Linked DNA regions of Homo sapiens. The protein of the gene in region 4 purifies or fractionates together with the protein of the main gene of each other region. This does not show direct contact. Each region holds a gene or a part of one and is shown on either strand. Other genes may lie near its edges.

Region 1 (3,000 bases), on a different chromosome or scaffold from region 4:
TCCCATAATTCTCTTGGGAGTAGAGCATTAAATAATGAACTTTAGCTATCTTTGTTTCATTATGTCTTGCTGAGTTTCTGCCATAGAAGAGATCGAGATGTCATTTCATCTGGGCCTTACTTTGCTCATCTGAGTTGTATTTGTTTGGGATGTGATTTGTAGAGGCCTTACTGGCTCCATGACAGGTCATCCCGAAGTAGAATATTTACTGCCTAAATAAAGCCAAACAGTTTGGGACTTTTTTTTTTGACACGGAGTCTCACTCTGTCACCCAGGCTGGAGTGCAGTGGCCGATCTCAGTTCACTGCAACCTCCGCCTCCCGGGTTCGAGCAATTCCCCTGCCTCAGGCTCCCGAGTAGCTGGGACTACAGGCATGTGCCACCACACCTGGCTAATTTTTTGTATTTCTTAGGAGAGATGGGGTTTCACCTTGTTGGCCAGGATGGTCTCGATCTCCTGCCCTTGTGATCCACCCGCCTTGGCCTCTCAAAGTGCTGGGATTACAGGTGTGAGCCACCACGCCTGGCCTTTTTTTTTTTTCTTTAAAGTTGTAAGACTACAGGAAATGGAGAGGCAGAGACAGTTTTGGAACCTATGTAGTCACCAGGAGAAACAACCTGTAAGATATTCATGTTACTTACTGCCTACTACACTAAAGTGAGGAATGCCAATGCAGGGAATTGGGAGAGGAGGAATGAGGATTGCTAAAGCAACTGCAAATAATTTATACTCCTGGATAACGGAATTTATTACATTTACATACTCTAAGTTCAAGAATGATTTACTCACAATTTAGTAATGACTTTGGAAAGTACAGTAAAATGTGTGAGCAGTTTTAGTTACATTATTATTTGTTGGAGTCTAAAGTACTCCACAGGTGTTTTGATACATGCCTGTTTGGGGTTAGCAATGTACTTTTCTGGTTAAACATCAATGGGGGTTACACATTTATCTTCTCAACAAAACAGGCTCCTCTAATATATGTAAATATGACTGGTCACCTTTTTCTCTTAAGCTAAATGTGATAGTTCTGGCTTTGCTTATTTGCTTTCTAGCAGCCTCCCCATGTTAGTCTTGCCACATGGTCAGTCTTCTGTTTGGTAGGTTTTATAAATCCTAAAAGTTCTAGTTCAGAAACAGCTCTAATAAACCGAGCACTGGAGGCTTTAATTAAGGAAACTGGCCGTGCTGTATTTTTGACAAAAAGGGATTAAAATCTCAATGTTAAAATACTAGTTGGTAAAATGAAGTAGATAGTTCAGATATAAACTCCTAAATTAAACTATAACTGTTACTGGAAAACATTAATTAGAATCCACTATCAATAAAACATAAATGGAAAAGTACTTAATGCTTCCTAAATCTAATGTTCTACATAGTATGGAAATTGCTCCCCGCCCCCACTTCTAAACGTACATTAGAAAAATAGAGAATTCAGACCAGGTCAGTGGCTCACACCTGTAATCCCAGCACTTTGGGAGGCCGAGGCAGGCAGATCACCTAAGGTCAGGAGTTCAAGACCAGCCTGGCCAACATGGTGAAATCCCATCTCCCCTAAAAATACAAAAATTAGCCAGGCATGGTGGCAGGCGCCTGTAATCCCAGCTATTTGGGAAGCTGAGGCAGGAGAATCGCTTGAACCCGGGAGGTGGAGGTTGCGGTGAGCCGAGATCGTGCCACTGCACTCCAGCTTGGGCAACAATAGCAAAACTCTGTCTCAAAAAAAAAAAAAAAAAAAAGAATTAGGCCGGGTGAGGTGGCTCACACCTATAATCCTAGCACTTTGGGAGGCCAAGGCGGGCGGATCACAAGGTCAGGAGTTCGAGACCAGCCTGGCCAACATGGTGAAACCCCGTCTCTACTAAAAATACAAAAATTAGCTGGGCTTGGTGGCAGGCACCTGTAATCCCAGCTACTTGGGAGGCTGAGGCAGGAGAATTGCTTGAACCCAGGAGGCGGACGTTGCAGTCAGCCAAGATCGCACTACTGCACTCCAGCTTGGGCGATAGACGAGACTCCGTCTCAAAAACAAACAAACAAACAAAAAAAACAAAAACCAAAAAAAGAGAATTCAATAATGGCAGTTTCATTTTTGGTAAATTTTAAAATATAATCTTGATATAAATTTGATACCAAAAGTTTTAGGTTTGGTCTCATTTTGGATTAAATTCAAAATAAAGATTCAGAAATTTCAGTTATTCTAGCACCATATGGTTAATATTAACAAGTAATACGGTTGTTTGGAGTACGCCTTTATAAATATCTAGTGTAGACCTGGAGAAATTATAAACTTATATTTTATGTGTAGTTGGACATTGTAGAAATGGTTTTAAAAGGATACTGGATAATTTCATTCATTTCTTCTGAGGTTGCAGAATTTGCATCCATTTTTTCAGCAGCTGTCACAACTGTTGCAAAAGCCTTTTGAATAGACAAGACAGAAGAAAATAAAAATGTCTACAGTTGCCAAACATCTTTTACTATACTTCTTTTAATGGCTGTTGATAGCTGGCACATATTCTTCATTATATCAAATTTAAGATTGTCAAAACTACACTGATGATCACTTTAAACCACTTATATATTAAAAGATAAAGTAATGGTTCCTGAATAATCTTGTTTCAGAGAACTAAGAGTATGCAGAGAAAAGAAACGAAGCTAGTCAAAGGTAAAAGAACAAGAAAGCCCTGTTTCCTCTACTAATCTTACTCCAGGAAAATATCTATTTTTCTTGGAAGCAGCCAATTATGGATATTTTTTAATGGTGACAAGACATCTGTAAGGCCTTTAATAGAGTTAAGATCTTTGTAATACTATTCTGAAGACAGAAAGAATAGTTGTTTATTTTAAAGAATAACAACAGTTGTTTATTGCCTTGCCAAGTATTCCTTATACTTCCTGATTGCTAAATCTGTTGTGTAGTTACTTCAATTTTTTTTCTTTTAAGCAAGAAGAGAAATGCTAGTTAATAATATACTTTATTTTGTGAAATAACAGAA
Region 2 (4,091 bases), on a different chromosome or scaffold from region 4:
CCATCCTAGGGAACAGGACAGAAGGTGGTCTATCCCCTGCCTGGTGTTTGATTGGGTGTTGGGGGTCTGGCTGTGCCAAGCTGGATGGAACCTTCGAAACTCAGCCACCTACCTCATTTCTCAGAAGGGGAGACAGAAGCCCAGACACTCAAGGATTTGGCTATAGTCACAGAGAAAGGGGTCTCCCTCATGGTGCCATTTCTTTCTGTAGATTCTTGCACCCACCCTCAGCGGGTCACTGGGTGTCCCCCAGCCCCTGATGATGTGATCCCTGATTCACCTTGCATGTGGGCTGTAGGAGGCTGCAGGGTGTCAGCTGGCAGCTTCACAGCGGGCACCCTTTCTGGGGGCTCAACCTGTGGGCCCCAACCTCCATAGCCCCTACCCTGGCTCTGTCTTCATGAGGTAACCCTATGTGTTCACCGCATGTGGTCATTTTCTTAGAGCTTACACGTCTATTCATCTGCAAAGCAGGCAGGGCAAAGTGACTCCCCTCTGTTTTTACAGATGAGGACACTGAGGCCTGGAGGGGGAGGACTGATGCCTTAGGTCACTTGGGGAGTCAGGCAAAGCTGGGACCAAAGGCCCCATGGAGCCGAATATGACCTAGTCCCTGCTGAGAAACTCTCCAAGCCCTCCCAACCCCTGACCCCCTCAGGGTGGGGCAGGAGAGGCAGCAGCATGCCTCTGGCTGTCAGGTTCAGCCAGGCTGAGCCTCAGTGCCCCCACCTGGATCTAGGGGGAAGGGGCAAGGTGGGACTTAAAGGTCTCGAAGGTTCTTCTGGTTCTAACATCCTGTGATTGATTGTCCCTAAATCTCTGACCCCTGTCAATCACTGTGGGTGATGGGGCACTTGCTGGCCTGTCTGTACTCATGTGTCTAGCTTTAGGGAGACAGGTTGGGGGTAGGGCCCTAACTCCACTAGAGAAAGGGGGACTGGAGGGTGCAGTCAGAGTGTCCACCATTAATCTGTCCCAGTGAGGCCCTTCCCAGCCTTTGTTAGAGTGGGTCTTGCTGAGCTGCTCAGAGAGGGCCCTAGGTCATGATAGGGTCACAGCAGTTGGGGCAAGGAGTAGAAGGCCTGGTGCTCTGACAGAGTTGCTGATCCAGCACATGCCACATGCCTTGGGGTGCTTGGCTCTGCACCTTTTTTACTGCAGGGGGCTGCCAGCTGTGACACCCTGGCCCCTGCCTCTCCTGATGGCCCCTCCCCACCCCAAGGTCCTGGACCAAGACACAGACGCCATTGCAGTCCATGTAGTCAGAGTGCTGACCTGCATCATGAGTGACTCCCCCTCGGCCAAGGTGAGGCTGCTGCACTGCAGCTTTAGTAGGGGTGCGGGGTGGAGTTCAACTGACCATATCCCCAGAACAGGCCTGGCCGGTGGCCATAAGCATCCTGCTCCCTGGAGCAAAGCAGGCGAGCTGGGAGGTGACTGCCCTGCCCTAAAGCTCACTGGGCAGGTGTGGTCGCCAGTCTGTCCTGGGAGCTGCATCTTCTCTGTCAGGGCTGGATGGGGAATGGACACTTGTAGGCCCACCTCCATCTACAGCCTTCTGAGATGTACTCACGTCCCCCCCATCCCTCTGCAGCCCACTGCCCACCAGCACTGTCACCCAGAGGCAGAGCTACGCAAGGGAACCCCAAAACATGATGCCCCTCCAGAGTTTCCAGGGGGTCTGAGTTTGCCCTCCGGCCCATGTATGTGTTCACTTCTTCCCCATACTACCTTACACAGGAGGTGTTTAAGGAGCGCATCGGCTACCCTCACCTGCAGGAGGTTCTGCAGAGCCATGGTCCCCCCACCCATCGGCTGTTGCAAGAGCTGCTCAACATGGTGAGGGAAGGGGCTTGGGACCAGGGTCCCAAAGGCAACCAGAACTGAGTCAGGGTTACCACAGATGGTGAGCTCTCCACCCTGGGGGACCGTATTGACTGCGGCCAGTACATACTGTTACCTGTAGCCTGGCCATGTCTGTTAGTGTCACTGGAATGAGGATTCTGGCCCTGTAGGGGTCCTGGAAGCAACTGCATGTGAGCAAGCCCCAGGATTATCTTAGGAACATGCAGTTAGGGGTTAGGCCAACCCAGGCTGAAAACTAAGGTTGAGGGATTAACAATGCTGAAGGACTCTTAGTAGTAGTGACTGTCATCTGTGCCCCTCTGACTTTCCTGAGCCTCACACACAACCTGTGGGCAGGATGGAGTAGATCATGTTGCTGACTGCTGCCGTAGGCAAGTAAATGGAGCCAGAAAGTCCCACTGTTGACAGGGTGCCACAGCTGACCAGGGACTGTCATTCTCTCCACCCACAGGCTGTGGAGGGTGACCACAGCATGTGCCCACCTCCACCAATCCGCAACGAGCAGCCGGTACTGGTGCTGGCGCAGTGGCTGCCGTCATTGCCCACCGCTGAGCTGCGGCTCTTCCTAGCGCAACGCCTCAGGTGGCTCTGTGACAGCTGCCCTGCCAGCCGTGCCACCTGTGTGCAGGCAGGCCTGGTGGGCTGCCTGTTGGAGACACTCAGCACAGGGCTAGCCCTGGAGGCCCGCTGCCAAGAGCAGCTGCTGGCACTGCTACAAGCACTGGGCCGTGTATCAATAAGGCCCATGGAGCTGCGTCACCTGCTGCGCCCCCGGCCAGGATTGGACTCGGAACCAGGCGGAGCTGAGGCTGGAAAGGCCCGACACGCAGGTGCTGTCATCCGCACATTATCAGGCATGGCCAGGCACCAGGGTCCTGCACGTGCTCTGCGCTACTTTGACCTCACGCCCAGCATGGCGGGCATCATGGTACCCCCTGTACAGCGATGGCCAGGGCCTGGCTTCACCTTTCATGCCTGGCTCTGTCTGCACCCTATGGATACAGCACCTACCCCTGCCCCCACCCGACCACTCCAGCGAAAGCAGCTGTACAGGTGGGTGACTGCCAGGGGCCAGGGACCTCCTGCCAGGGTGAGCAGGAACAAGCAGACATAACTGGCTTGCCTGCCCCCAGCTTCTTTACCAGCAGCGGCTCAGGGTTTGAGGCCTTCTTCACGGCGGCCGGGACCCTGGTGGTGGCTGTGTGCACACGGAAGGAGTATTTGACCATGAGTTTGCCCGAAGTGTCCTTTGCCGACTCTGCCTGGGTGAGACCCCATCCTTCTCATGTGGCCCAGTAGAGAGAGGGGTGCTGAGTCCCAAGTATGGCCTAATGTGAGGCTTCTGTTCTAGCACTGCGTGGCTATCGTCCATGTGCCTGGGCGCCGGCCCTTCAGCCAGAACCTGGTCCATGTCTACAAAGACGGCCATCTGGTCAAGACAGCACCCCTTCGCTGCCCCTCCCTCAGTGAGGTGTGCCAAGCAAGGTTTGGGGAGGCCTTGGGTAGATGGGAGGACTTGGAACACAGTGGGCAGGTGTAGCCTGGAGCCCTTGTGTCCCGTGCTGCCCCACAGGCCTGACTTTAGCCACTGGGGTCCATGCAGCCATGGGGGTCACTGTGAGGAACTGGTTGTAGGCGGAGCCCCAGGTTCTGCTGTGACCTGACCGCTCCCCCAACCCCGGCCCCACAGCCTTTCTCCTCCTGCTGTATCGGCTCCGCTGGATACCGCACAACGACCACCACCACAGGGCTGCCCACACCACCAGTCCCCGCCACCCTGGCCTACACTCACCCCGCCCTCACCCGCTCCCAGTCAGTCCCAGCCTCCACAGGGCTTGGCTGGGGGTCCGGGCTGGTGGCCCCCCTGCAGGAGGGCAGCATCGACTCTACCCTCGCAGGCACCCAGGACACTCGGTGGGGCAGCCCCACATCCCTGGAGGGTGAGCTGGGGGCTGTGGCCATCTTTCACGAAGCCCTGCAGGCGACGGCTCTGAGGACCCTGTGCACCCTGGGTATGCAGCATTCTCCATCTCTGCCACAGCCCCAGGCCAGAAGCTAGGGGTCCGGGGGGAGAAGGCATCTCTGGGGGTCTCTCCTGTGGTCAGGCAGTCTCTGGATGGGGTTTGGCCAGAGGCCTAGCAAGGTCTGAAGCCCCCTGCCCACCTCCCAGGGCCCAATGAGACGGCACCCTTCAAGCCTGAGGGGGAGCTGCATGAGCTCAGCAC
Region 3 (4,091 bases), about 50 Mb from region 4:
GACTTGTAAGTTTAGTGGCTGAAAGCGTTTTTTAGTGGTTGTATAGAATGTGTTTCAAACTGGCCAGCACTTTTAAATAAATTTTTTTAGTTTAAATGCATTCAGGGAATATGGACACTTTCTAGATCACCCGATGCCTTTTCTCTTCATGTTATCTCACAGTGGCCAGTTCATACACTGGTTACCTATAAGGTGTTTGAATTTGTGTCCCATGCGTATAGAATACTTAAAAGCCAAAAGGTCGTCTTTTATCTTTACAAGGTCTTAGGATAAAAATGAAAGTCTCAAGCACTTATTAATATTAAATGGGGGGAAATGTGCTACTTGATTTTTTTTCTTTTTTCACAGATACTTCTAGTTGTCAGATCTGTTTATTTATATTTTATTTTATTTTTTGAGACGGAGTCTCGCTCTGTCACCCAGGCTGGAGTACAGTGGCGCGATCTTGGCTCACTGCAACCTCTGCCTCCTGGGTTCAAGCGATTCTCCTGTCTCATCCCCCAAAGTAGCTGGGACTACAGGCACATGCCACCACATCAGGCTAATTTTTGTATTTTTAATAGAGACAGGGTTTCACCATGTTGGCCTGACTGGTCTCAAACTCCTAACCTCCAGTGATCCACCCACCTTGGCCTCCCAAAGTGCTGGGATTACAGGCGTGAGCCACCACATTCAGCCTGATTTTTTTTTTTTTTTTTTGAGACAGTCTCACTGTGTCACCCAGGCTGGAGGTGCAGTGATGTGACCTCCTCTCACTGTGGCCTCTGCCTCCCAGGATCAAGCGGTTCTCATGTCTCAGCCTCCCAAGTAGCTGGGACTACAGGTGCACACCACCATGCCCAGCTAATTTTTCTGTTTTTTAATAGAGATAGGGTTTCTCCCTGTTGGCCAGGCTGGTCTTGAACTCCTGACCTCAAGTGATCGACCTGCCTCTGCTTCCCAAAGTGCTGGGATTACAGGCGTGAACTACCGCGCCTGGCCCTCAGATATTTTTAAATTTGAAAATTAAGAGTATATATTAATATCAAGTAGCAGAAACAGAATGAAGTGTTATAAAGGCGTTAAGTAGTAGGGAGACATAAAACTTAAATCTTTAAGCTAGAAATAGCTTGAGGAATTATCTGATGCAGTACTCTGTTGTAATATATCAAAAATGGAATCACAGTTTTACAAATCAGGCAGCTGCAGCTCAGAGAGGTTAAATTTCCACAGACCTGTTTATGCAGCGCGGTAAATGAGGAAGTAGAACTAAAATTGGGGACTCTGCTACTCTGGCCATTAACTCAGCCTCGCTGGACCTGAAATCCTGACGGCGGAGCCGAATATTTCTTGATAATTTCTGGGCTTTTGATTTGTGTTTTTCTTTATTAAAAATTGTGTATATTTAAGTGTTTCTGTATTACTGTCCAGGTGGGATGTGGGTATTTAATTTTGTTACCTATAGTCTTGTAGAAGTTGATCTTGAAAACCATTTCATTTTATTATTATTATTCTCTTTTTTGAGATGGAGTCTCGCTCTGTAGCCCAGGCTGGAGTGCAGTGGTGCGATCTTGGTTCACTGCAACCTCCATCTCCCAGGTTCAAGCAATTCTCTTGCCTCAGCCTCCTGAGTGGCTGGGACTACAGGCACGTGCCACCACACCTAGCTAATTTTTGTATTTTTAGTAGAGTTGGGGTTTTAGCATGTTGGCCAGGGGTAGTCTCGATACCCTGACCTCATGATCTGCCTGCCTTGACGTCCCAAAGTGTTGGGATTACAGGTGTGAGCCACTGCACCCGGCTGAAAAGCATTTTAAAAAGAAAGTTTATAGATCAAAAATTTGCAACTAGACATTAAAAGGAACTGTTGGCTGACCACAAAAACTTTTATATGTTTTCTTATTTTATGTGTATTCTTATAAAAGCAACTAAAGAAGTTGCTTTTAAGTGTATTTGAATAGGAAATGCATTTTGCTATTTTTTTATTGGAGGTAATTCAAAAGTTTGCATGTTTTTGCTGTATGACATACAGGTATATGCTTTCACAGTTATTAAGTAAAGAATTATTCAGTTTCTATCCCTTGAAAATCTTCATATAGGAAGCATTAAGCTTCGGTATAACATTATTTAGTTTAGAGAGATTCAACTGAAAGTATAAACTAAAAAGGATCTCATTAAAGAGATCGAAATTTCTTTATCAAAATTGTGTCTTAATAAGGAAGGGTATTATTCAACAATGTGAGAAGATATAATGGAAATTATGGTGGAGTTGCTTTTTTCCCCCCCACATACGGTACTACCTTCTGTTTTTTTCAGCTCTACATTACTGCCCCTACTTTAGCCTTCAAATGTCCTAGATTGCCAGTTTAATGTATTTGGGACATTGCCATTAATGATCTTAGCTGGAAAGCATCCACTCAAATACACATGTCCTTTGTGAACCATATGCAAATAAAATATGGGAAACTTGGAATGCCGAATATAGAGAACTCTTATTACAATAAATCTGAGGTAAGCCAGGTAGTCTTCCTCCAAGTAATTATGAGAATTTTTCTTTTTTCTTTTTTTTTTTTGAGATGGAGTTTCACTCTTGTCGCCCAGGCTGGAGTGCAATGGCATGATCTCGGTTCACTGCAACCTCTGCCTCCCGAGTTCAAGCAATTCTCCTGCCTCAGCCTCCCGAGTAGCTGGGATTACAGGTGCCTGCCACCACGCCCAGCTAATTTTTGTATTTTTAGTAGAGACAGGGTTTCACCATGTTGGCCAGGATGGTCTCGAACTCCCGACCTCAGGTGATCCACCTGCCTCGGCCTCCCAAAATGCTGGGATTACAGGCATGAGCTGCCACGCCTGGCCAAGAATTTTTCATCAGTACCTAGCTTTACCCTCCAAGAGTCCCTCCGGTGAGATTTTGACAGTTTTTACCATGCATGCCTGTGAAAGTAGGTTTAGAAGGTTATATTGCCTTTCAGTGCTAGTCCACTCTAGATGTGAATGGGTATGTTCCAAGAAGGGATTTTAGTAATTTCTTTCCAGTTTTTATGTTGTTAGTTAGAAGGCTGAATTTCAGGATTTCATCCTTTTTTTGTTTGTTTGTTTTTTAGACAGAGTCTCACTCTGTCACCCAGGCTGGAGTGCAATGGCGCAATCATGACTCACCACAGCCTCACCTCCTGGGCTTAAGCAGTCCTTCCGTCTCAGCCTCCTGAGTAGCTGGGACCACAGGAGTGAGTCATCTTGCTGGCTGATTTTTTTCATTTTTGCTAGAGATGACATCTCACTATGTTGTCCAGGCTGGTCTTGAACTTCTGAGCTCAAGCAGTCCTCCCACCTTACCCTCCCAAAGTGCTGGGAATTACAGGCATGACCCACTGCACCTGGCCCCATCCATATTTTAATCTATATTTTCAATCCCTTTACTTTGATTTAGCCATGTGTTCTTGGAGAAGTTATTCTCTTGGATTCGCATTGTCCCCATCTGTACAATGGGGACAGTATTAGCAGGATTGCTGTAGGGATTAAATAAGGCAGTACATATAAAGTGCTTTACATCTGTTGCATAATAAGATACACCATCATGGTAGCTGCCATTATCTGACAGAATTTCTGCAGCCATCCACTTCTGTATAAAAGCAGTAGGAGTTGATTGAGGTCTTTGGAGGAAGAGAGAAGTTACTCTTTCTAGAAAATGACAGCAAATATGGTTATATGGAGAAACCTTTGTGACCAGAAGAGAGGAAGAGTTTAAAAAAGGAATTCGGTTCCCTATCACTTACTGGCTTGTGAACTAATAGGGGCTTTTCTAAAGGGTATTGCAGTATTATTTTAAATTTATAGAGTTTTTGCCTAAGAAACCTGTAATAAACACTGAAGTTAGATGCAGTTTTTTTGATAATGTTTATAATGATAAGCAAACTAAATGAGAATGGATACATCTCTAAGTAAAAGAAGTGCTTATCTGAAAAAAAAAAATTGTTCAGACCAGAAATACTGGCCTTAAAAGATTATGATAATTTAATTGGGAGTCGGGGGAGTATTAAAAAGGAAATATTAAGGTAGCGCAAGGTAGCCTGATTTTCTGTTGAAATGACAACTTACCTTTTAGTATTTTA
Region 4 (4,091 bases):
ATATTCCTTACTAATCACATAAAGTGGGTTGGATGTCAAGGAAGCCGATCTGAGTTGAGGGGTTACCCGTGTTCTCTCTGGAAACTGTTCCACACTTTGACTGTTGAAGCCTCGACCCACCCAGATGCACTGGTTGGCACAGGTAAGCTGTGCCCATACAGGCCAGAGGGGCCGATGGTCTGCCTAACAAGTTAACCCAGCCGGTGTGTGCAAAGGCATGTACTGCTGTATGGGAGGCAGCATGTCGCCAGGCCACTGAGGCAGGGGAATGGCACTTCAGACTCCTCTCACACGGTCAGCTCACCCAGGGCTGTGGCTGCGGGGGCACGAGTTCCCCTTGTCAGAACTCGCAAGGATGTGCATGGCTAACGTGCAGGAAATAAACCATAAAGAAGAAAGAGTGCTGGCTGGGAGTTTCCCTGCAGTGTAAACTCCCTGTTTTTTGCTTTAAAAAGACAGAATAAGTGAAATCTGTTTGGAGAGGTGTTCTCATTATCAGCTGTTGTATAACAAATCACCCCAAAATTTAGCAGCCAGAACCACGGGAACCACGCACGGTTATGAGCTCATGGTTTCTGAGGGCCGGGCATGGCCTCATCTGGGTCCTCTTCTTCAGGATTGGTCAGGCTGCAGTCGGAGTGTCAGCTGGGCCTGGGGGGTCACCCAAGGCCCACCTGGGGAGAGTGGCTTCCCAGCACCCTCATGGGGCAGAGAGCAGGGCCTGCCTCCTTGCACGTGGCTTGCCTAAGGCCCTGAGCTCCATGCTGGCTGTTGACTGCAGGCCACGCTCAGGGCCTCTCCATCGGGCGGCTCACATCATGGCAGCAAGCCTCATCAGCAAGCCAGTGAGAGGGTGCCTATCCGAGGATGATATTCCATCACCTCTGTCAGATTCTGCTTACTAGTCAGTCCCCAGGCCCAGGCCACTCGCAAGGGGAGGACATTACAGGAGGCGTGAGTATAGGTGGTGTGATCTGTGGGGACCGTCGCAGAGGCTGCCCACCACAAGGGGTTAAAACCTATAAAACTTCGAAGTTGGATTTAATAATTTTCAATTACTAGGAAATAGATAAAAACAAATTTTCTGTCCTTCACAGAACACTAAAGTATGTATTGGATTTTTTATCCCCCCTGAATTTTGTTGTGTGTGTGCTTCCCAGTTGAAGCAGTAATTCAGGTTCATTAATGTTTACTTCAAAGCCGAAGTGGAGTCTTGACTCACACAGTTCAACGCTCTTTCCAGTAAGATTCTCAAATTCCTTTACGGTTATTTTTTGCCACATAACAAACTAACCTAAAATGCTGGGGCTTAAAGCAGCCACCACTGTTTGCTTATCATGCTGTGGATCAGCAGTTTGGGCTGGGCTCGGCTGGGCGGTTCTTCTGTGAGTTGCTGCTTGGGCTCACTCGTGTGTGTCTGCCTTCGTCTGGTGGCAGCTGGTCAGTCCAGGGGACCTTGGAATGCCTCGTACTCCTGAACGTGGCTTCCCCACCAAGTAGCACCAGGTTCAGGCAGGACCCCCTGAGAGTCCACCTCAGTGTGGAGTCACATATTATTACTTCTGCCGCATCCTGTTGACCCAGCCTAAATTCGTGGTGAGAGAAATAGATTCCACCTGTTAATGGGAGAGTGTCCCGGGATGGGGGCACTATAGTGGCCTTCTGAAAATCTGTTTTGGCCCTCCTCAAGGTGATATTGGATTACTGCTTCTCGGGGGTCTGGTTGGGGGAGAGGGTGGGTTTTAACCTCAAATCCTTTTCATAATCATACAGAAAAAAAGAGTAGTATGTTTTTGGGGAGAAACCTTGGGAGCTGTCCAAACAGAAATTGAAATCACAGCATCCACACTGCCTGATCTAATGCCCAGCTAGACCATGCAAACCTGATTCCGACCGAATGCCCAGCCAGACCATGTAAATCTGATTCTGAGCTGTGCACAAGGCTCACACCTGTAATCCCAGCACTGGAGGTTGCAGTGAGCCAAGATCATGCCACTGCACTCCAGCCTGGGCAACAGCAAGACTGTCTCAAAAAAAAAAAAAAAAAAAAAACACAACAAAACTGCTTCTGAAGCGTGAGCCTGAGTTAGGAAACCTCACGTTTACACATGGAAAGTTCTGGTGAGGAGATGAGCTGACATGCCATCCCCCTTTCCGTCTGCTCTGATCACACGGGCACACGCAGGCATGAGGAACGGCTCCTTGAAGGCAGTGTGGGTACAGTGTTGGCCAAGGGGAGAAGTTGAGTGACCGGGGTATTTGATTTTAAACTCTTCTAGGACCAGCCCTAGTGTAGTGGAATTGTAAGAGCAGTGTGATGGCAAAGCACACTGCTAGCAAGACCCTCAGCGCTCCTTCCGCCCATCAGCATATTGGAAGCAGCCTCCAGGAGTAGCCTCCTGCCAAGAGAATTGGGTCAGAGGCGACCACGGGATTAAGTCTTGGAAGGTTTTTCTTCTCTTTACTGTATGTTTAAGCCCTATCTAGTAAAATGCCTGTGAAGGCCTCTAATCCTCCCACAGGTAGAGGTTTATGGTTCTTGTCCACTTTAAAGATTAGGGTGGCCCCGCGCCTGCGGTGATGTGGGGAAGAGGAGGGGGATTACGTGGAGATGCAAGGCAGATGTCTGTGGAGCCCTCCCGGCAGGAGAGCAGGGCAGACGGGCCGGGTCACAGGGCCAGCGCCTGCGGTCCCATCTGAGACACCGCCCAGCTGCCCGTGGACACGCTCAAGGCTGAGGAGGAGGTGGTCTGCTCTGCTCTGCTCTCACCTTTCTGGGTGAAATAAACAAGAAGTGTCGGGATTTGGGACCGACCAGGACGCTGAGGTCAGGGCCTGCACGCAGCTGTGTTTTGCAGGGAGCCACGACAAGCGTCAGGCCTGCACTCACGCGGGAAGCTCCCCCAGGGCCTGCTGTCGATGAAGACGGATTCATTCGCGAAAGCATGTCTTTTTTTAATGCTGACATGTAATCTGTTTTAATCTCATGGGTCTCCTATCTGTGCGTTCAAGCTCCTGTGTCAGTCGTCTGAGTGGGGACTGCCGAGCCCCGCCCCATGCTGCCCCCTTGGTTTTCTCAGGGGTTCCCCTTGGTTGCGGTGCTGGCTGCTTCCTGCCACCTGTGGGCAGGTGTTGCTTTCTTGAGATGTGTGTTGTTCATTCACAGTATCTGCGGAAGCGCCCCGGCCTGTCCATGTCTGTTAATACGTTCGGTGGCACAAACTCTGGCTGTGGGTGCACCCGTCCCTGTGCCTGCCCACCTGCTCCACATCCTCACGCCCGTGGCTGGCGGCAGCTTAAGAGTCACTTCCTAAGGCCGTGTCCCCACTTGGGCTGGTGTCCTGCAGGGCTTTCAAACGCGACAGCTGCAGGTTTAGAATGAGCAGAGTCATTGCCCTGGTACCAGCCCCTGAGAGTTGCTTGTAAGGCAAGAGAGACTGCACCCAGCTGGCAAATCCCGGGGAAGAGCGGCACTCCGGGCGTTCTGGCACAGACGGCTGGAAGACTGGTGGGAGGTGGGAGGCGCCCCTGGAAGGGCTCCTTTGGGCCCTGGCGGCCGAGTCCGTGGCTCATCCTCCTGGCACCAGGGCATCTGGGGAGCATGTCCGCCCTCTGGGCTGTCCACAGTCATTGTGTCTCCAGAGCCTGCAGCACCCGTGGGCGTGTTGGACATCTTGGCAGGTGCTGGCTTCTGGTCTGTGCCCACAGCCTGAGGCCCCTGGGGAGACATGAGGTGGCTTCCCGACATGTCAGGAGCGGTTTCCCCCCAGGCTCTCTGGACAAGCGTGGGGTCAGGTGATGCCCACGCACCTGCCGTTGTCAGCAGTGTTTCTTCCCCTGCAGGCTTTGAAGACGACCCCCAGGCTGTGCTGCAGACAATGAGGAGGTACGTTCACACCTTCTTTGGGTGTAAGGAATGTGGTGAGCACTTTGAGGAAATGGCTAAAGAATCCATGGACTCGGTGAAAACCCCAGACCAAGCCATCCTCTGGCTGTGGAAGAAGCATAATATGGTGAACGGCCGCCTGGCAGGTGAGAAGCCCCTGGGCATGGGGGGCTCAGCACGGGCGGAGGGAGGCCCTGGTCCTGGG
Region 5 (4,091 bases), on a different chromosome or scaffold from region 4:
ATGTAAAAATTATATTTTTTAATGGCATCTAGAATGGTGAATTCTTGAGAAAGTTGTCAATATAGTTTGCTTGGATCCATAAGAGGTATTTCTCCCTATGTCACCTATAGCCTTATAAAATGTTTTTTTTAATTTTTTATTATTTTATTTTATTTTATTTTATTTTATTTTTTGAGACAGAGTTTTGCTCTTGTTCCCCAGGCTGGAGTGCAGTGGCACGATCTCGGCTCACTGCAGCCTCCACCACCCGGGTTCAAGTAATTCTCCTGCCTCAGCCTCCCAAGTAACTGGGATTACAGGTGCCTGCCACCACGCCCAGCTGATTTTTTGTATTTTTAGTACAGGCAGGGTTTCACCACATTGGCCAGGCTGGTCTTGAACTCCTGACCTCAGGTGATCCACCCACCTTGGCCTCCAAATTGCTGGGATTATAGGCATGAGCCACCGAGCCTGGCCCACAAAATGTATTTCTTAAAAAATGTCTTGAAAATCAAAATTACTTCTTGAGCCATGAGCTGCAAAAATGATCTTCTGTTAGGCACGAAAACAACATTAATCTTTTTGTATATCACCATCAGAGCTCTTGGGTGACCAGGTGCATTGTCAATAAGCAGAAATACTTTGGAAGAATTTTTTTTTTGAGTAGTAAATCTCAACAGTGGGCTTAAAATATTCAGTAAACTATGTTGTAAACAGATGTGCTGTCATGCAGGCTTTATTATCTCATTGATAGAGCACAGGCAAAGTAAATTTATTGTAATTCTTTAGAGCCCTGGAATTGTCATAATGGTAAACCAGCATTGGCTTCAACTTGAAGTCACCAGCTGCATTATTCCCTAACAAGAGTCAGCCTAAACTTTGAAGCTTTGGAGCCAGGCATTGACTTCTCCTATCTAGCTCTGAAAGTCCTGGATGGCATCTTCTTCTAATAGAGGACTGTTTAGTCTACATTGAAAATGTGTTGTTTAGCGTAGCCACCTTCATCAATGATCTTAGCTAGATCTTCTGGATAACTTGCTGCAGCTTCTACATCAATCCTTGCTGCTTCCACCTTGCACTTTTATGTTGTGGAGATGGCTTCTTTTCTTAAACCTCATGAACCAACCTCTGCTAGCTTCCAACTTTTCTTCTGCAGCTTCCTTACCTCTCCACATCTTCACAGAATTGAAGAGATTTAGGGCCTTGGTCTGGATTAGGCTTTGGCTGAAAGAGAATTCTGGCTGGTTGGATCTTCTATCCAGACCACTAAAACTTTCTCCACATCAGCAATAAGTTTGTTTCACTTTCTTATCATTCATGTGTTCAGTAGCACTTTTAATTTCCTTCAAGAACTTTTCCTTTGCATTCACAACTTGGCTGTTTGGTGCAAGAGGCCTAGCTTTCAGCCTATCTTGGCTTTTGGCATGCCTTCCTCAGTAAGCTTAATTATTTTCAGCTTTTGATTGAAAGTAAAGATATGCAACTCTTCCTTTCACTTGAATTCTTAGAGGCTGTTGTAGGTTATTAATTTTCCTAATCTCAATATTGTTGTGTCTCGGGGAACAGAAAAGCCTGAGGAGAAGGAGAGATAGTGGGAATGTCTAGTTGTTGGAGCAGTCAGAACACACATATTTATTGATGAAATTCACCATCTTATATAGGGGCAGCTTGTGGTGACCTAAAACAATTACAATATTGATATCAAAGAACAATGGTCACAGATCACCGAAACAGACATACCAATAACGAAAACATTTGAAATACTGTGAGAATTACCAAAATGTGACACAGAGACAGGAAATGAACGCATGCTGTTGGAAAAATGGTGGTGATAGCTTTATTCATTTTCTTTGAAAAATGCAATATCTGTGGCATGCAATAAAGCAAAGTGCAATAAAAAGAGACATGGCTGCAATTCAAATTGGAATCAAATGTTTTATAATCTGTCCAGTCTTTATTCTCACTGTTATTTTTTGCTCTTTTCTTTTTGTTTTGCAATGTAGCAGGGACCTTTTATCATTCATTTTTGTGTCCACATTGTCAGGCATTCAATTTGGTACGTAATAGGTATTAAAATATTGAATAAAACCAAACCTCTGGCATGACATACTGCTTCATAAATCTACATCTAGGATGATAATTAATACCATAGAATCTAAAATTTTGTTATATTTCAGATGGAGGTAACTTGCCTTTTTCTAAATGCAATGCCTAATATTTCTGCAGATTTAAATTCACAAACTTGGCATTTTACTATACTGTAGTAACTTTCAGATTTTACAGTACGCTTTTTCCCCTAGTCAATAATATATAGGTTAAATCAGAATAACCATGGGCAAAAATAATAGCTCCAGCAGTGAATGTCAGAGAAGTGCCACTTCATATCTCTTATTTTTGTCTTGACATTATATTAAATGTCTTCCTCAAACAGAAAATTCCCCTAATCACATGATAATTTTATTTTCAAAGGCAACAGACAATTTTCCAAGGAAAGTTTGCTAAATATGTATTTTGAACGTCTGTATAAATGGAAACTGAATCTCTCACATCCACGAGCTCACTAATGCCCTAGACCATATTAAAACTAAGTTTGAAATACTAAGAGTTTTTCCTTCTTTTGTTTTTCTCAACACTTCAGTAACCTGTGTCAGGGAGGGGAGAATGATGCAGCAAATGCGTAGCAAAGATAAAACTGGTTTGTCACAATGAGTTCCAGCTTCATGCTGTCTAAATGAAACCAAGTTTCCCCTATAAAGAACAGGTTGCTCCATTTAAATTATCTTTGTTCTTATAGGTCAAAATATCATGTCTTTAACTTGTTTGGGTGAAAACCACATGCCCTAGCTTCTGGCACAGATAACAAATTAGAAAATATCTAAACCACATATATTTAAATGTAATATTTAAAGTACATTGTAAGTGAGATAGAGTCTGCAGTTTATGAGGAAACAGCTCATTTACATACCAAAGAATCTCTCACAATTGTAAATTCTGTGTGTCTTTGACAGCTTCACTTCAGGCATGGAGATGTGGAGATGTTTGATGTTTAGAGAGCATTAACTTGTATAGAGCAGAGCAAGACTTTATTCATTGCACATTTGCCAAGGATACTCTTTTTGGTTTCCTTTGAAGATAAAAATTACTATCTGTTTGGACCAGGAAGTTCATCTGTCTCTGCATAACCCTCACTAGGGGTAATATATATTTACATGACAATCAAATAAGTATTCTCTGTAAAAAACCAAGCCTGTCATTCGTATTATCCAGGGCAGGTGGGAACTGGAGACAGCAAAAACTTAACCTTGACAAATCTTCCTAGAACTTTAAGTAAAATGGAGCCTGAACTCCGTAAAGTCGACATTATTGTATGATGTTAATGCATAGTTGCCAGATGAAGATTTTTCCCCTGCTTTGTTCTTTTTAAATATGTTACATTAGATAATATGTATTTTTTAAAAATACATTAAACATGTCCCCAACGGGTTTCTTTTTGTTTGAAAGAAGAAAAGAATAATGTTTTAATACTATCTTTAAGCTCCAACTAAGCATAACTATAAAACCAAAAGCTTTACTGGAAAATCTTAACCATTTTCTTTTCAAATTGATATATTCAACACAAAGGTCAATGTAGATGATTTTAAAATTGCTTAGTTGCACTGTTTTATGTTTCTCTCATATTAAATATTGTTAACTGATTAAAAATTAATGCCAACAGTATTGGAGGCCTTAAGTCTCTATGGATTCCTAAGCCTTTAGTATAATAACTGAATAGCCTCAATTCATTTTTGCATTGTAAAAGTAGCATGAATTTTAAATTACAGTCATAATGATAACCAAAAATAAATAGGAAAAAAAATAAGAAACATTTAAGCTCATAAACGGAACATTTTCATGGATACTATGTGCTTATGGGGTGGGGAGAAAAATAGTTCCTATTACAAATAATAATAAAAACTACAAGAAAAAGCTTCTTAACGGAACCTAACAAGGGCTGACACTACACAGCTATATTTTCTGCTCATTGTCACTGCAAATTTTGTATCATGGATGATTTGAACAATTTAAAAAACATAAACTTAATTTGCCAAATAGCATGATCTTGTAAAATTTTT
Region 6 (4,091 bases), on a different chromosome or scaffold from region 4:
ATTTTTATAAAGATATTTTAAAATATTTGTGAAAATATAAGTAATCTGTGGATGATACTTTGAGATAGGCAGCAACCCTTCATGCAATTTTAGTATTCCCTGATGATCCTTGCCTGTATCTGTTTTTACATCAGTGATTACAAAGCGGTGATGTTCTGTCATTCCTTCTACATGTATTTGCTGGTATTCTTCTGAAAATTACCTGGATGATTTCTTCAGATTTAAATTCACTGTCTTTTCCTTGGGGAAGCCTGGACTGGCTGAGCTGCCTAACCCTGACTCTCTGTCTTTTTTTTTTTTTTGACAGGGAGTCTAGCTCTGTTGCCAGGCTGGAGTGCAGTGGCAACCTTCACCTCCTGGGTTCAAGCGATTCTCCTGCCTCAGCCTCCCAAGTAGCTGGGATTACAGGCGTGTGCCACCATGCCCGGTTAATTTTTTTTTTTTAATATCTATTTTAGTTGAGACAGGGTTTCACCATGTTGGTCAGAATGGTCTCGATCTCCTGACCTCGTGGTCTGCCCGCCCCTGCCTCTCTTCATACCCTCTGGTAGCCCCTGACACAGCCCATGGCAAGTATCACAATTGCAATTACTCTATTGTGTAATTATTTAAAATCAGCCTCTCAGTGCCCACCATGAGCACCGTAAAGATGGACAGTTTCTATCATACTCACAGCCACAACCCCAGCACCTGGCTCTGTGTCTGGTACATAGAAATTGCTCAAGAAAGAATTGTTGGAGGGGCGCGGTGGCTCACGCCTGTAATTCCAGCACTTTGGGAAGCGGAGGCAGGTGGATCATGAGGTCAGGAGTTCGAAACCAACCTGGCCAATATGGTGAAACCCCATCTCTACTAAAAATACAAAAATTCGCTGGGCATGGTGGCATGTGTGCACTTGTCGTCCCAGCTGCTCAAGAGGCTGAGGCAGGAGAATCACTTGAACCTGGGAGGCAGAGGTTGCAGTGAGCCGAGATCGCGCCACTGTACTCCAGCCTGGGTGACAGAGCGAGACTCCAGCTCAAAAAAAAAAAAAAAAGAAAAAAGAAAAGAAATAATTATTGAATCAATGGAAACAGAATTACAACTCTTCCCACTTTTGGGAAGGAGAATTGAGATTCCTGCTTTCCCCTTCAACCCTAGCTTTATGTTTGTTGTGATGGTATAGAGGTCACACATGGCAGCCTTGTGTCTGTTCTTAGGCTGAGTTCATCTACTTAGGGACGGGGAATCCCAGATTGGGCAAAACCAAAAGCAGGGACAGACCTTGGAAAAATTGTAAAGCAGTTCTTGGTTGTGCTCACCCACCATGACAAAATATGCACACACACAACGCAACACACACACAGACATTTTCATGCCTTCAAGGCCTACCCTACAGCCTTTCCCATGGTGCCAAACCCTTCTTCTTACCTTACAGTCACTTAACTGTCTCTGCTGGTCTCTTCCCACTCATTTAGGCAACAAATATTTATTGAAAAACTTCTCTGAGCCAGATGGTGCCAAACAGTTACCTAAAGGGCAGACTGTGTGTGTGCCAGGGCTGTTTCCCGCCAACACTCCCCTGCAAATTGAAATAATTTCATCCTTGGAAATTCAAAAAAATCATGAAAATTGTCACTGTGGGAAAATTCCAAGTAGAGCTGAACCTTCTAAGAAGCAGAGAGTTCTTCTTATGGTTTAGTATTTTTTTAAATTATGAATCATTTCATGTTTTTTCAACACTCGGAGTTTCTAAAAGTCTCACTTAGGTCCAAGTGCTAGGCTTTGTGCTAGGTGCTTCAGTAGGAAGCAGGTGGAGTCGCTGCCTCACAGAAGCCAGTGTGGTGGAGGAACAGACAGGCACTACAACAGCTGCAGTGTGACTAGTGCCATGTGGGGCAGCCGCTGGGATGGGAGTACAGTGGAGGCACCTGCCCAGTCTGAGTGGATCTCCTCTGATATATTTTATTCGTGTCATCATGGCAAATGTTGGGGGACTGGCATTCTAGGGAACACCATCTGCCCAGGATTCACAGCAAGAGGGAACTTGAGGGATAGGAAAGTGCACCTTGGAAAAGGTTTGATGATAGAGTGTTTGAGGGCGGGGGGTGGGGGTTCTTGTAAAATAGGAGGGGCAGGTTCTTCTATGGCCGTGGATTTTACTCTGAGGGCTTAGGAAGCCATTGAATTTTAGAAATTTCTTCTCCCTGCTCCAGGGTCTCTTGGGGCCTCCTACATCTCCCCCTAGGTACCTCCTAGGTCCCCACTTTTTCTCTAGCTCTGGAACATTCTCTTCCATTTCCCACCTTCACAGTCCTCTGGAGAAGGTCTGATCTCCCTCACTATGACAGGAAGCCAGGCTCTCTCATGGTGGGTGGGGGAATGCACTATGTTCAATGCATTGGACCAGCCTGGCCAACATGGTGAAACCCCGTCTGTACTAAAAATACAAAAATTAGCCTGGCACAGTGGCAGGTGCCTGTCATCCCAGCTACTTGGGAGACTGAGGCAGGAGAATCGCTTGAACCCAGGAGGTGGATGTTGCAATGAGCCAAGATCGCGCCACTGCACTCCAGCCTGGATGACAGAGTAAGACCCTGTCTAAAACAAAAAGAAAAAAGCATCGGAGGCAGCAAAGAGCTGGTTTGAGGGACTGACTTGTGGGATTCTGGCTTCTGAAGGATTGTAGAAGTGCCTCCTACCTTGCTGAGAGAAACAGGTCTTGGGCATGGGGTAGGGTTAGGGTACTAGGTTTGGGAGCCCTGGGAGAGGACAGGAGGGGCATGAGCTGTGCCGGCCTGGGAGTCTGTGCTCACCATCCTACTCTCTCCCCAGCTCCCAAAATGGCGATGACACCGGCACCTGGCCCAACAACCAGTTTGACACAGAGATGCTGCAAGCCATGATCTTGGCGTCCGCCAGTGGTAAGTGGTGTCAGTGTGTGTATGGAAGAGTGGGAGACCTGGGGTTCTGGGGTGCATCTCACAGCCACCATGCCCACGGACTGGATGTCAAACCTGTGTAGTTTCTCCAGATCTTTCGGCAGGTCTGAAAGGACCCACAATTCCAAACATAAAGCCTGGAATTGTGGCTAAGGAACAGCAGAGGGGTTGGGGGTCCTGGGATGCCTGGAGGAGAGCGAACAAGGAAAAGACTCATGGAGGGAATAGTGGTTACAAGTCTAGCTCTGGAATGGGACAGTGTAGCTCAGGTCCTAGCTCTGCTACTATCCTTGGGACTTGGATCGACTTGCTCAATCTCTCTAAACCTCAGTTTCCTCAGCCTAGAAAGTGGGGACAGGGACCCCAAAGGGTTGTTGTAGAGATTAAATGAGATGATACCACAAAGCATAGAGTTCTGGGCCTGGCGCTTGGAAGCCCTCAAGCAATGAAAGTGGGTGTAGAAATCCCCAGCCGAGAGAACACCTCCTCTTTATGCGAGGCTCCTCTTTTGCTGCCCCTAACTCCAGAGTAGGATTCTGGTTTTCCCATAAGGTTGACTAAGGGCTTCCTTTGTAATAGAGATTCGGCTAGTGGTGGTTGTCCCTGAAGAGTCACTAGGGCCCAGAGCAGGAGAAGAAGAATATCATTTGTCCTTAAGAGCACAGCCTAAGCTGGGCGTGGTGGCTCACGCCTGTAATCCCAGCACTTTGGGAAGCTGAGGCAGGAGGATCATGAGGTCAGGAGTTCGAAACCGGCCTGGCCAACATAGTGAAACCCTGTCTCTACTAAAAATACAAAAATTAGCTGGGCATGGTGGTGCGTGCCTGTAGTCCCAGCTACTTGGGAGGCTGAGGCAGGAGAATCGCTTGAACCTGGGAGGTGGCTGTGGTGAGCAGAAAATCGCACCACTGCACTCCAGCCTGGGCAACAGTCTCGCTCTGTCTCAAAAAAAAAAAAAAAAAAAAAGAGCACAGGCTTTAGAGGCAGGCCAATCTGGATTCAAATCCTGGCACCTGGCACCACCACTTAGCAATGAGTCCTTAGGTAAGTTATTAAACCCCCTCGGTTTCACTTACTATTAATGGGCACAGTATTAACGGATCTCATTGTGGTGTTACCAGGGCCAAATGCAAGTCCCTCAGCACAGGATTGGCAGAGAGTAAGGGCACA
Region 7 (4,091 bases), on a different chromosome or scaffold from region 4:
TCCCTTGAACCCAGGAGGCAGAGTTGCAGTGAGCGGAGATCGCACCATGGCACTCCAGCCTGGGTGACAGAGTGAGACTCTGTCACAAAAAAGTAATTAACGGAATAAAATAAGAACCAGAGTTTGCAGCAATAAGCCAAAAGGGACAGAAGCACTGATCAAGCCCAGGAGGAAACAGGACAGGAGAAGGTCAGGGGGAGATGATGGTATAGAAAGGAGACAGGGGTTCTTCTGTCTCTTAGAAAAGATGGATGAAGTAGAAAAACATACTGAGCTGAGGCCACCCTTGAAGTCAACTCTACAACAGTTCTTCAGGTATTTGAAAGCAATAAACACATTTTTTTTGGATTTCCTTATCTCTAGAATAAATATTCTCATCTGGACCCACTCCTGTTGGCTAATATTCATCTTAAGGTAGAGCTCATGTCTTAACATCAAGTTCCAGTTGTGGCATAGAATTGGGCAAGACAAAACATCACTTTTTCTGGCCACAGTGAACTGATGACTACGTCTTTGTTAGATTGACGGTTTGGTGGTTTATTTTATTTTATTTTTTTAATTTTTATTTTTTGAGATAAGGTCTCACTCTTGTCATCCAGGCTGGAGTGCCGCAGTGGCTTAATCATGGCTCACTGCAGCCTCAAACTCCTGGGCTCAAGTGATCCTCCTACCTCAGCCTCCTGAGTAGCTAGGACTACAGGTGCATGCCACACCCAGCTAATCATTTTTAATTTTTGTAGAGACAAGATCTCGCCATGTTGCCCAGGCTGGTCTCAAACTCCTGGGTTCAAACGATCCTCTCACCTTGGCCTCCCAAAGTGCTGGGATTACAGGCATGAGCCACCCACCATGCCTGGCCTGCTCTTGGATATCTCAGCCTTTTCTTTTGGTCCATCCTATCTTAGAACGAGCCTTATGATGCCAAGCTCTTACTCTTCTTTTGAGTTTTAGAATTAGGTTAGACTCTGAGTGACAGGAAAAAAAATAGTAGCTTAATTAGGATAGAAATGTATTTCTCTCTCATGTTCTGGGCTTATATGGCTCGCCATGGTGTCCTTAATCCCACCTAGCTGTTAGAATAGTTAGTGTTGGCAGCCAGGCAGCCTGTGCTTAGCTAAAGTTAGGAATCCTGCTACTAAGGAGGAAGCGGGGAACAGATATTGGGAATTAGGCAACAACCTCCGCCACCTTCTCTATGCCAGAACCTGGCCACCTTTCTCTCCCTTGTGGTGGAAGTCACTGGTCAGCCTTAATGCTGGTCTCCACTGAGCTTCAAGCTTTGGGTATACTGGCTCTGAAACTCAGCACTGGGTGAGGTATCCTGTGTTCCTGCTAGTTGGGGCCTTATGGACAAGATATGGAGGGGAGTAGTCCCTCACGGCCCTAAGAGGCCCCAGGCCATCTCTGTGCAGCCACTGAGTGAGGAGGGTCTGCTTTGGACTTTGCAGAACTTATTGAAAGCGCAATGTACCTCTACCGTGCCACGGGGGATCCCACCCTCCTAGAACTCGGAAGAGATGCTGTGGAATCCATTGAAAAAATCAGCAAGGTGGAGTGCGGATTTGCAACAGTAAGTGTTTGCATGGCCCCAAGAACTGGGAAGAGTCTCCCCTTGCTGCTAAAAAGCCTCTTTAAGGGTAGAGCTTTGGGAGTTCTGACATATCAGCACTAGAAGGGACCTTGGAGATATACATAATGCTCATATTTTACAGATGGGGAGACCAAAGAACAGAGAAGCTAAGTGCCTTGCTAAAGATCTCACAGCTAGTAGAGGTAGAGCTAGAATTAGTTCCTTGGGATCTTGACCCCGGCCCTTGGCATTCCTCCCACAGTGGAGATCTTTGATCTGTTTGAATAGGTGACTTTGAAAAGGTGAGTTTAGCGAAAAGTTTTGTGAGACACTAAAATAGATTTTAAGGGGAATCCAGAGTCCCATAGCCCTATATTCAAACCTGGGACTCCTTAACAAAGCAGTCCTGCTTAGTCTCACAGATATTTCTTGAATGTCTTTCACATGCCAGGCACTCTGCTAGGCCCAAGGGTTACAGCAGTGGCCTTGCTCTCATGGAGCTTACATTTTAATGAGAAAAAAACCATGAATGTGTATCTGGTAGACAGAAGGCCAGTGTGGCTGGAGCGGAGCAAGCAAGGAGAAAAGTGGGAAGAGATAAGGTCCCAGAGGTAGGCAGGGGCTAGATCATGTAGGGTTTTGTGTAAGCCACAGGAAAGAGTTTGGGTTTTTTTTTCTACTTGGAATGTGAACCCTTGGTAGGATTTACAGCAGAGCAGTGACATGATCTGATTTGTATTTTAGAAAGATCGCTTTGGCTGCTTTGTGAAGAATAGATTGAAAGGGTCAAAGGTGAGAGCCATCTCACATCCATGCAGGAACCAAGCAGGCAAGATATAAATATGAAAGTAGAAGAAAATAGTCTGGAAGAAAATCCCCTGAAAAGCCTACAGTGTTGGGGTATGGAATTCAAAACAACAACAAAACACTTATTTTGCAAAAGTTTGTAATGTGATTATATTCTATAAGTAAAATATAGATATGTGTAGGGGAAGAGAGAAGACCTACATGTGGAAGGGAAAAAATAAACCCCTGATATGATTTGGTTTCTAATATGCTGTATTGTGTGAAAAACCAAAATGATAAGCCCACTGGGGCCTTCCTAGGAATGCTGGGCTCATTTCCATGAACATGAAGCCCTTTGGAGGTCTTCCATGGTGAATGATGGGAACAGGGGTCTGACCTTTCTCAAACAGGGCAAGGAAATAATCATCTTGATACATCAAGACCATATTTGAGTCATATTTTTAAATGTAAGATAGAGTCCACTGAGAATGTTTTGTTTAGAAGTATTACTAATTCTGAGAAGCTAAAATAAATGTTTGTAGCAAGTAATCTTAGTCATCCATGCCTGAAAACTCAGTTGAAATTCTCTAAATAAGACTCCTTACTAAAACAATGTCAATAGTTTTCATCAACAGCAGTTGAACCTAGTAAGTGTCGATACTTTGGGTCTGAGTGGAGAAAAAAAGACCCCTTATTAGTTGCTTACAAAAACTTGGTAATTGGCCAAGCGCAGTGGCTCAGGCTTGTAATCCCGGCACTTTGGGAGGCCAAGGCAGGCGGATCACGAGGTCAGGAGTTCAAGACCAGCCTGACCAACATGGTGAAACCCTGTCTCTACTAAAAATACAAAAAAAATTACCTGGGTGTGGTGGCATGTGCCTGTAGTCCCAGCTACTCTGGAGGCTGAGGCAGGAGAATTGCTTGAACCCGGGAGGCAGAGGTTGCAGTGAGCCGAGACCATGCCATTGCACTCCAGCCTGGGCAACAGAGTGAAACTCCATCTCTAAAAAAAAAAAAACTTGGTAATCATCTGAATGCCCTTCCAAGGAGGATTAGCCAAGTAAATGGTGATCCATTTTCACGATGGAATACTCTGCCATCATTAAAAGGGACGATTAGCTCTATGTTTATAGTCACAAAAAGTTGGGATAAAGGGGATAGGAGATTGTCATGTCATAGAGCAAGGTTAGCGGAGACCTTTCTGGTGAGGAAGCATTTGAGCAGAGACCTGAAGGAAGGGAGGGAACAAGCTATGAGAAAAACTGGAGGCGGAGTGCTCCAGGCTGAAAGAACCACAGATGCAAAGAGCCCGAAGCAGGAGGGTGCTGTGCTAGCTCAGGACAGAAAGGCAGCAGCTGGAGCTCTTAGAGTGGTAAGAGGTGAGGGCAGGAAGGGAGCAGGGGCCAGGTCATGACTTGCATTTTTATCCTGCATGAAATGGAGGGCTCACAGAAAGTTGTGAGTAGAGAATTGACAGGAAGACTTATGTTATACAGATACTGTAGGAGCTTGGTGTGTGTCTCACGCCTGTTATCCTGGCACTTTGGGAGGCCAAGGTAGGAGGAATTGCTTGAGCCCAGGGATTTGAGACCAGCCTGGGCAACATGGTGTGAGACCCTGTCCCTATTTTTTAAAATAGTGTGTGTATATAAACTGCAGGGCTAAGATTGGAAGCTGGGAGCCCATTTGGAAGCTTATGTGATAATCCAGGTGAGAGATGATGGTGGCTTGGGAA

The links.
Region 1: the proteins of QSOX2 (region 4) and ORC3 purify together in Homo sapiens (affinity purification with mass spectrometry; one large-scale study listed by BioGRID and IntAct). This does not show direct contact.
Region 2: the proteins of QSOX2 (region 4) and NBEAL2 purify together in Homo sapiens (affinity purification with mass spectrometry; one large-scale study listed by BioGRID and IntAct). This does not show direct contact.
Region 3: the proteins of QSOX2 (region 4) and TUT7 purify together in Homo sapiens (affinity purification with mass spectrometry; one large-scale study listed by BioGRID and IntAct). This does not show direct contact.
Region 5: the proteins of QSOX2 (region 4) and TRDN purify together in Homo sapiens (co-immunoprecipitation; one large-scale study listed by IntAct). This does not show direct contact.
Region 6: the proteins of QSOX2 (region 4) and PCDHGB4 purify together in Homo sapiens (co-immunoprecipitation; one large-scale study listed by IntAct). This does not show direct contact.
Region 7: the proteins of QSOX2 (region 4) and EDEM2 purify together in Homo sapiens (co-immunoprecipitation; one large-scale study listed by IntAct). This does not show direct contact.

Annotation. Positions count from the first base shown.
Region 1 is NC_000006.12:87,665,176-87,668,175, reverse strand, and holds the end of ORC3 (origin recognition complex subunit 3), read right to left. Parts: intron 2,423-3,000; coding exon 2,343-2,422; intron 1,166-2,342; coding exon of another isoform or gene 1,159-1,165; coding exon 1,053-1,158; 3' UTR 725-1,052; downstream 1-724. UniProt on the Homo sapiens protein: Component of the origin recognition complex (ORC) that binds origins of replication. DNA-binding is ATP-dependent. The specific DNA sequences that define origins of replication have not been identified yet.
Region 2 is NC_000003.12:46,992,715-46,996,805, forward strand, and holds part of NBEAL2 (neurobeachin-like protein 2), read left to right. Parts: intron 1-1,161; exon of another isoform or gene 1,162-1,201; coding exon of another isoform or gene 1,202-1,222; coding exon 1,223-1,306; intron 1,307-1,740; coding exon 1,741-1,839; intron 1,840-2,317; coding exon 2,318-2,919; intron 2,920-2,999; coding exon 3,000-3,132; intron 3,133-3,217; coding exon 3,218-3,337; intron 3,338-3,556; coding exon 3,557-3,878; intron 3,879-4,036; coding exon 4,037-4,091. UniProt on the Homo sapiens protein: Probably involved in thrombopoiesis. Plays a role in the development or secretion of alpha-granules, that contain several growth factors important for platelet biogenesis.
Region 3 is NC_000009.12:86,347,741-86,351,831, reverse strand, and holds part of TUT7 (terminal uridylyltransferase 7), read left to right. Parts: intron 1-4,091. UniProt on the Homo sapiens protein: Uridylyltransferase that mediates the terminal uridylation of mRNAs with short (less than 25 nucleotides) poly(A) tails, hence facilitating global mRNA decay. Essential for both oocyte maturation and fertility.
Region 4 is NC_000009.12:136,211,205-136,215,295, reverse strand, and holds part of QSOX2 (sulfhydryl oxidase 2 precursor), read left to right. Parts: coding exon 1-142; intron 143-3,843; coding exon 3,844-4,032; intron 4,033-4,091. UniProt on the Homo sapiens protein: Catalyzes the oxidation of sulfhydryl groups in peptide and protein thiols to disulfides with the reduction of oxygen to hydrogen peroxide. May contribute to disulfide bond formation in a variety of secreted proteins.
Region 5 is NC_000006.12:123,626,773-123,630,863, forward strand, and holds part of TRDN (triadin), read right to left. Parts: intron 1-4,091. UniProt on the Homo sapiens protein: Contributes to the regulation of lumenal Ca2+ release via the sarcoplasmic reticulum calcium release channels RYR1 and RYR2, a key step in triggering skeletal and heart muscle contraction.
Region 6 is NC_000005.10:141,502,579-141,506,669, forward strand, and holds part of PCDHGB4 (protocadherin gamma-B4 isoform 1 precursor), read left to right. Parts: intron 1-2,814; coding exon 2,815-2,903; intron 2,904-4,091. Other genes in the region: PCDHGA1 (protocadherin gamma-A1 isoform 1 precursor), read left to right, coding at 2,815-2,903; PCDHGA2 (protocadherin gamma-A2 isoform 1 precursor), read left to right, coding at 2,815-2,903; PCDHGA3 (protocadherin gamma-A3 isoform 1 precursor), read left to right, coding at 2,815-2,903; PCDHGB1 (protocadherin gamma-B1 isoform 1 precursor), read left to right, coding at 2,815-2,903; PCDHGA4 (protocadherin gamma-A4 isoform 1 precursor), read left to right, coding at 2,815-2,903; PCDHGB2 (protocadherin gamma-B2 isoform 1 precursor), read left to right, coding at 2,815-2,903; PCDHGA5 (protocadherin gamma-A5 isoform 1 precursor), read left to right, coding at 2,815-2,903; PCDHGB3 (protocadherin gamma-B3 isoform 1 precursor), read left to right, coding at 2,815-2,903; PCDHGA6 (protocadherin gamma-A6 isoform 1 precursor), read left to right, coding at 2,815-2,903; PCDHGA7 (protocadherin gamma-A7 isoform 1 precursor), read left to right, coding at 2,815-2,903; and 11 more. UniProt on the Homo sapiens protein: Potential calcium-dependent cell-adhesion protein. May be involved in the establishment and maintenance of specific neuronal connections in the brain.
Region 7 is NC_000020.11:35,116,077-35,120,167, reverse strand, and holds part of EDEM2 (ER degradation-enhancing alpha-mannosidase-like protein 2 isoform 1 precursor), read left to right. Parts: intron 1-1,448; coding exon 1,449-1,570; intron 1,571-2,960; exon of another isoform or gene 2,961-3,032; intron 3,033-4,091. Other genes in the region: MMP24-AS1-EDEM2 (ER degradation-enhancing alpha-mannosidase-like protein 2), read left to right, coding at 1,449-1,570. UniProt on the Homo sapiens protein: Involved in the endoplasmic reticulum-associated degradation (ERAD) pathway that targets misfolded glycoproteins for degradation in an N-glycan-dependent manner.